2 linked regions of the Homo sapiens genome follow. The protein of the gene in region 2 purifies or fractionates together with the protein of the main gene of each other region. This does not show direct contact. Each region holds a gene or a part of one and is shown on either strand. Other genes may lie near its edges. The genes, in order: RALA and MYO1G.

Region 1 (3,820 bases), 5.3 Mb from region 2:
GATACAAGTACAAAATCAAAGATGTAAACATTTGTAATGTTAAATTTGAATTGGAAATAACAACATGATCACATTTTTTTCTTTTAATAATACCTATTTCCTAGAACTATTCACTGAAAAATGACAACACAATAGCAACAAGCAAATTATGTAACTATGCTGTGGCTGCTAAATATCATTCCTCCTAAACAGAACCTGAGTTCCTTAGATGAATGGCTGATTCCTGATCTGCAGCAAGAAGCATAAAATTTAAGTCAGAAAGCAACGAAACTATCAAAGATGAATGGGCTGAGTCAAACGGACATAGGACCAACATGAAGGAGCATAAACGGTTAAAGGGAAAAAAGTATAAAACACACACCCACACACAAAGTATGCAACAGAACGGAACACAATGATGACATAAAAGCCATGGGTTTTTGCCCCTAGTGGTTGTGATTCTATTTCCCCAGAGACTAGGAATTTCAGAAGACCTCTGTTTCAAGTCTCTGGCTAACTAGCTAGGACAGGAGGTCTCGATTCTGACTAAATGTAATTATTGGAATACTCCCAGTATTGCTTTCTAATGCAGATAAATCACTATGAAAAGGAAACTAGATGAAGGTTTAATTTCTGATTTTATTTTCAATTGAATTTTGTCTGTTTAATTGACACATATTCACAGAGTACACAGTGATGTTTTGAAACATATAACGTACAGTGACTAAGACCAGGGTAATTAGCACATCCATCATCTCAATCATTTATTATTTGTGTTGGGAACATTCAATATCCTCCTTTCAGGTATTTGAAACTATACATTATTGTTAAGTATAGTCATCTACAATAGTATAGTACACCAGAGCTCATTCCTCATATCTAGCTGTAATTCTGTATAATTTAACAAATCTCTACCTATCCCTCCCATTCCAGCCTCTAGTATTCTCTGTTCTATTTTTTACTTCTATGAGATCAACTTTTTCTAAGCTTTTACATATGAATGAGAACATGCAGTGTTTAACTGCCTGTTCCTGGCTTATTTCACTTAATTGTCTCCAGTTCTATCCATATTGCCATGAATGACAGGATTTCATCCTTTTCAATGATTGAATAGTACTCTATAGTGTATATCTATCACATTTTCTTTATCCATTCATCTGTTGTTGGCACTTGGGTTGGTTCTGTATCTTGGCTATTGTGAACACTGCTGTAACAAATAAATGTCATTAATAGGAAAATGGCTGAATTATGGAAAAGTCTAACCATGGAATACTTTGTGGTTTTAAAAAGAATGTGGATACATCTATATGCAGTGACATGGAAGAGCTGTAGGATTTGTCATAAAATTTAAAAAGCGCACCACAGAAATATGCTCTATATATACAGATACAAAATATATTACGTGTGTGTATATATATACACAAATCCTATTAATACAGGAAGAAAAAACAAGCAAATGCAAACTTTCCCTTAGAGATATGTATGACTGCTTTTAACGTCTGGAAAGACACACCCGTGTTAGCACTGGTTACTGAAAGGGAGGGGAAAGGAGTGAACTATGGGAGAAAAATGACTCATTTTTCCTCCTTATGTTTCTATATTATGAATTTTTCTTTATATAAGCATGTATCCATGTATTACTTATACAATGAAAAAACCCAAATATGATATTTTCCAAAAAATACAGTGTATTTCTACCAAAATTCTTCCCTCGACATAAAACTGATTCTCTTGACATAATAAATCACACTGCCCCTTTGGACATCTGTTAATATTTGCTCAACTTCTCTCTATTCTGCCAAAATGTTCCTTAAAATCAAGAGCAACCTTGGAGTCGTGAATTAAGACCCAGAGCATTTAGCTAGAAGGATAATAACAAGGTCACTGAATGAATCCAATGAGTACACAAGTAGGATTGCCCAGATGTTCCTTTAGCCTCGGAGTGATTCCTCTGTGACAAGCATGGCTTCCTGAGACATGCCATGCCCCAGCTCTGGTGGCTATGACACTTTTTCATGACTAGATTTAAAATCTGCATCTTTGAAACTTCCACCTAATGGTCTATTTGGACTCCAGATGAGGATAACGCATGAGCCAATGATCTTATGGAGAGCTAGCATTTGTTCTGTGACAAAGCATGACACTTCACAATTTAATAAAAGGAAATAACACTTGCTATTCCTGAAAATTTGTGATCAGGCTTCTAGTAGTGGATGACATAAGAAATGGGAGATACACTAGCTATTCCAACCATTGTTTTGTTTTGTTTTTGAGATAGGGTCTCACTCCCATTACCCAGGCTGGAGGGTAGTGGTTATGATCTCGGCTCACTGCAGCCTCCACCTCCCAGGCTCAAGCAATCCTCCTGTCTCAGCCTCCCAAGTAACTGTGACTACAGACATTCGCCACCACACCTGGCTAGTTTTTGTATTTTTTGTAGAGATAGGCTTTTGCCATGTTGCCCGGGCTGGTCTCAAACTCCTGGGCTCAAGTAATCTGCCTGCCTCGGCCTACCAGAGTGCAGGGATTATAGGTGTGGTGGCACCTGGCCCCAACCATTGTTTTGAGTAAAATATTGAAGAAAGAATGTGAGCATGTGAGCGCCAGAGTTGGCCAGACCCAGAAGCTGCAGATGCCACCACGAACCCCGTGACCTTGAGCCAGTTACGTAATCTCCCCACACCGCAGCTTCCTTGTCTAAAAAGTGAGCATCAGAAGAGTATCTACGCCTCACACAATTAAGGATTAAATGGTTGGTACTTACCACAGTGCCTGGCTCTTATAAACACAAATAAATATTAGCTTTTCTGATTATTAGATTATTTCCTCAGGAAAACAACCACAAACACAAGTATAACCTAATTCTGGAAATTGAATAGTTGCTGCAAATGACTTTTATGTAGCCACTGAGGTACTTTATCTGGTAATCACTCCGCAGGATGTAGCAGTACATGAAATTATAGTCTTCAGTATGGATTTGCACCTCACTTTACAAGCAGCCTCGTTTAATGTAATTCTGTTTTGGACAGGTGACCACCGACTGCAGACTGTATTAACTGAAACTGGCCACAGCAATGTTTCCTATGTGCTTTTCCAGAATCCTGCCACTTTTCATCAAGAGCTGAAGTCTATTCCCCTTCCTTCTCAACCTAGGTGAGACTTTGTGACTATCTCCAACCTGTAGAATGAGGTAGAAATAATGCTGCATAACTTCAGAGACTATGTCATAAAAGGCCGTATGGTTTCTGCCTGGTTCTTTTTCTCTTGTGACACTTGCCCTTGGAGACTCTGCCCACTGTGCTGTGAGGAAGCCTAAACTAGCACACATGGAAAAGGCCACATGGAGGAGCCCACCTGGAGAGGAACTGAGGCATCCTTGGATAATGGCCAGCATCATCTGGCTGAGCCAGACATGTGCGAACAAGCCTTCAGAACCTAAGTTTAGGTATTTCCAGTGCCTAGACTTGAAGCTTTCAGCTGAGGCAGCAGACACTGTAGAGCAGAGCCAAGCCATTTCCACTGTGCCCTGTTCAAATTCTTGGCCACAGAATGTATAAGCAGAATAAATGACTGTTTTACCCATAAAGGTTCTGGGGTGTACTTTGTTATACAGCCATAGTAACTAAAACGGCCTTATACCTTTATTTTATTTTTTATTTTTTGAAAAAGTAACATAGTCGTACCTCAGTATCTATGGGGGATTGGTTCCAGAATGCCCGTGGATCCCAAAATCTCTACCTACTCAAGTCCCGCAGCTGGCCCTGCAGAACACATGGATGCAAAAAGCCAGCCCTCCGCATATGCAGGTTTCACATCCTGCTGTATTCTCTGTCTGCATTTG
Region 2 (3,747 bases):
CAGTCAGCTAATGTGGCATAGCATCCACCTTCCCACCTATCAAGGGGGCTGGTGTATCTCCCATCCAGGCACTGCAGGCCCGGGATGATGGGTTAAGGTATTCAGTGGATGCCAGCTGAATGGAATGTGTGGTGGGCTGAGAGTAGTACCTGCAGAAGAGTGCGTGGCAGGTGTCCTGGAAGGGCTGCAGCACAGCAGGGGGCAGCGGCCACACAAGGTCACGCCCGTAGAGTGGCGGCTGCCTTGCAGCCTGGAATCGCCGCTGCAGCTCAGCCAGGTGAGCCCGCACCTTGTGTCTCCGGAACCAGCGCATGATGGTGTAGATAGCCCTCAGCCTCCGGCAGCGCCACCTCGCCAAGGTGCCCCGCCATGCCTGGGTGGGCCAGGTGGGATGGGATACGCAGTCAAATTCAATCAGGCCCTAACCCTTAGACCCAAACCTGGCCCTGAGCATTTATTGAGCACTCCCTGGCCTGTCTCCATCAAGCAGAGACTCCTGTGAAACTTACAAGTGTGTTTGTGGCCCCTGGGACACAAGCTTTCCCCACCTCCATAGTGGATGTCTTCCTGCCCCGCCCACCTCACCTTCTGCAATAGCAGCACAATGATGGGGATGAGGCGGGCTCGGCTCTGCTCCAGTGTGACCAGTGTCCGGGGTGAGCGGATGAACAGCTTGCTGTGGCCAAAGGCCACGTCCCCCTGCAGCCCGTGCTGCTCCAGGAGAGCGCTCACGGCTGCCTTGTCGGAGCCCAGCAGGTGGTTGGGCCATGTGTATTCACAGGTCATCTTGTACCTGTCACCACAGGACAGGGCAGTGTGGCCCAGGCCTGGGGGAGAGATGATGGAGCCCACCCTGCCCACCCCACACCTGGGGAGATGGCAGGGATACAGAGTGTGTTCCTGGAGCACTTATGACACCTGTGCACATATGTCTTCCCATACACATGTCCTCACATACATGTCCTCACACAGCCCTCATACCCATGTTCCCACCTGTATGTCCCCACATGCATGTGCTCACACACATGTCTTCCCAGATATTTTGGTGTCTTGAGGCCAGCAGCGTGCTGGTTCCTGCTTGTATCGATGTTTGCGACGTGCTGTTTGGGGACCCTCTGCTCCTACCCCTTGGACTCCACACAGGGACTATGGCCCATGGAGTGATGGGTGTCAGGTGCCAGTACCTGAGCAGGAATCGAGAGTAGGGCTGGCGGGAAGCGAAGCCAGCCCTGCGGACCCTCACATTCTCCAGCAGCCCCAGGTATGCGACCTGGTGGCGACAGTGGTTCTCATCCAGCTTCCCAGCTACCTTGTCCTCATTGGGCTTGATGCAGCGGACGTAGAAGGGCTCCTGCAGGGACAGAGGGGACTTGGAGAGGGTCTGCGCCAGCAGCACTGTGCACCCTGCCCCACACCAGGGGCTTCCTAACCCCTCAAGGTCCCAGGCCAGGAGAAGAGTTGGGAACAAAGAAGGGAAATCAGCAGAACAAGGGCCCTGGAAGCCCTAAGTGCTGGGCAGAGGCCAGCAAGGCCAGGTTCAGAGCCAGGTTCCAGCCCCTGGTCGGGGGGTGGGGAGGTGGGCGTGGCAGGGGCAGGAGCAGGCCTCGCCCCATCTGCCTTCCTTCTCTCCTTCCAAAAGGGGCTGACATCTCTGGATGTTCTGTAGTTAAGCTCACCCTAACATGTCCTCTCCCTGACCCTTCACCTGTTCCTCTTCTGACTTTTGACCCAAAGCTCCCCAAGAAAGCTTGTGCCAGTTTCCTGTCTCTCTGGCCCCACCTGCCAGAAGAATCCTGGGTTTTTGCCAAGAGCTGGGCTGGGCCAAGCCAGCCTCTCAGCAGGGTCTCCCCAAACCCCTCCCTGTTCAAGAGACAATGGGGCGAGGAGAAGCCTGGGTTCCCCATGATTGATCAAGCCTCAGCCCAGCCCCTGAGGCCCCACATCTCACCTGTGCAGTGGGTGGGGTCCACTGCTGGAGCAGATGTGGCTCATACAGACAGGACAAGAACCCTCTCCCCACCACTATGATGTACAGAGGTGGTTGGGACCCTACTTGGCACCGAGGGCACAGAGAGAAGGATCCGGAACAGCCAGAGTGGGAGAGGGGTGGAACATACCTTGGAGGCAAGGTTCTCCACCAGGGCCACCATGGAGTTCTTGAAGAGTGTGCCAGCCGTCAGGGGGCGCTTGGTCACCTCTGTGATGTCCTGCTGCCCGTCCGGCCACATGGCCCGTAGAGTGGGGTCCGTGCTGCAGACACAGGCCGAATTCCCAGCCATCCTCTGGGAGAGCAGCCCCACCCACCCACGTCCTGACGCTAGTCAATGCCTGACCCCAGAGTCTCTGGGGCCCCAGGGCCCTGGCCCTCCCTATGGTGCCCAGCAAGCCGTGCTCACCTGTTGTACAGCAGCCGCTTGAAGTCCTGGAAGAGGAAATCTCTGTTCTTGTCGATGAAGCCTTCCACGGAGTACCTACCAGAAGCCAGGGCTGGTGAGGGAGCAGGGGCGGGGGCTGCCAGGCCAGAGTGCTAATGACCCCAGCAGCCCCCACTCTCTTCCCATCTGCCTCTGTTCCCATAGGTCAGTCTCTCTTCCTCCCTCTGCCTTGGCTCCTCTCCTCCTTCCCCCTCACACCTGCTTTCTCTTTCGTCATGTAAGACTCCCTCCCTCAGGAGACATTTCTCTCCTGGAAGATGAATCGAGTGGTTAAGCCCCCAGCTCTGAAGCCAAATGTCCTAGCACCGAGTCCTGCTTCTACCACATGCATGCTGTGTGACTTTGCCTAAGCCACTCAACCTCTCTGTGCTTCAGTGTACATCAGTTGCTCAGAACAGTGCCTACTGAATTTTGATAAACATCAGCGACTACAACTATGACTAGGAACTCCTGAGTCCTGGGCCTATTTTGATCTGTGGGCACTGAGAGCCTCAGAATCACTGTCTAGTTCTTGGACTGCTAGAAAGGTCAGTGCCAAATCTTGGCTCCAACTGCAGCACCTATGAAGGCTCAGGGAATGGATTTTTTTTTTTTTTTTTTGAGAAATAGTCTCACTCTCTTGCCCAGGCTGGAGTGCAGTGGTGCGATCTCAGTTCGCCACAACCTCTACCTCCCAGGTTCAAGCAGTTCTTGTGCCTCAGCCTCCCGAGCAACTGGCATTACAGGCACGCGTCATCGTGCCCGGATAATTTTTATATTTTTAGTACAGATGAGGTTTTGCCATGTTGGCCAGGCTGGTCTCGAACTCTTGGCCTCAGGTGATCCACCCACTTTGGCCTCCCAAAGTGCTGGGGTTACAGGCATGAGCGACCTCATGGGTGTAGATTTTGCGAACAGATAAAGGTAGATGATATTGGGCTGCTTTGTTGTCATCATCTATTCTATTCCCTCTCCTTGAGAAGTTCTCATGAAACACTTATACCTTGATGTGAGTCACCTTAAATCGTTTTGGGATGCGGCAAGCAACACATAAGTTAATAGCCATCATGACAACCCCTGAAGACACCTGGGCTTTGGCACTGGGAGCGTGGTCCAAGTATGGTAGCGAGGCCTCACCTGGGAGCTTGTTAGAAATGCAGAATCTTGGCCCCCCTGCACCTTCCACTCCCTCCCCACCCCCACATCACCAGCCTGAAGCCCCCCACCCCACAGATGCTGGTATAGGGTTGGGCCCAGACATGAGACGTGGGTATTTTTTAAAGGCTCCCAGAAGAATGCAGCCATGGTTAACCACTATCCTCAAACCCTGTTT

What was found.
Region 1: the proteins of MYO1G (region 2) and RALA fractionate together in Homo sapiens (co-fractionation; one large-scale study listed by BioGRID). This does not show direct contact.

What each region holds. Positions count from the first base shown.
Region 1 is NC_000007.14:39,699,943-39,703,762, reverse strand, and holds part of RALA (ras-related protein Ral-A precursor), read right to left. Parts: intron 1-3,820. UniProt on the Homo sapiens protein: Multifunctional GTPase involved in a variety of cellular processes including gene expression, cell migration, cell proliferation, oncogenic transformation and membrane trafficking.
Region 2 is NC_000007.14:44,965,488-44,969,234, forward strand, and holds part of MYO1G (unconventional myosin-Ig), read right to left. Parts: intron 2,472-3,747; coding exon 2,397-2,471; intron 2,251-2,396; coding exon 2,118-2,250; intron 1,352-2,117; coding exon 1,185-1,351; intron 794-1,184; coding exon 586-793; intron 374-585; coding exon 150-373; intron 1-149. UniProt on the Homo sapiens protein: Unconventional myosin required during immune response for detection of rare antigen-presenting cells by regulating T-cell migration. Unconventional myosins are actin-based motor molecules with ATPase activity and serve in intracellular movements.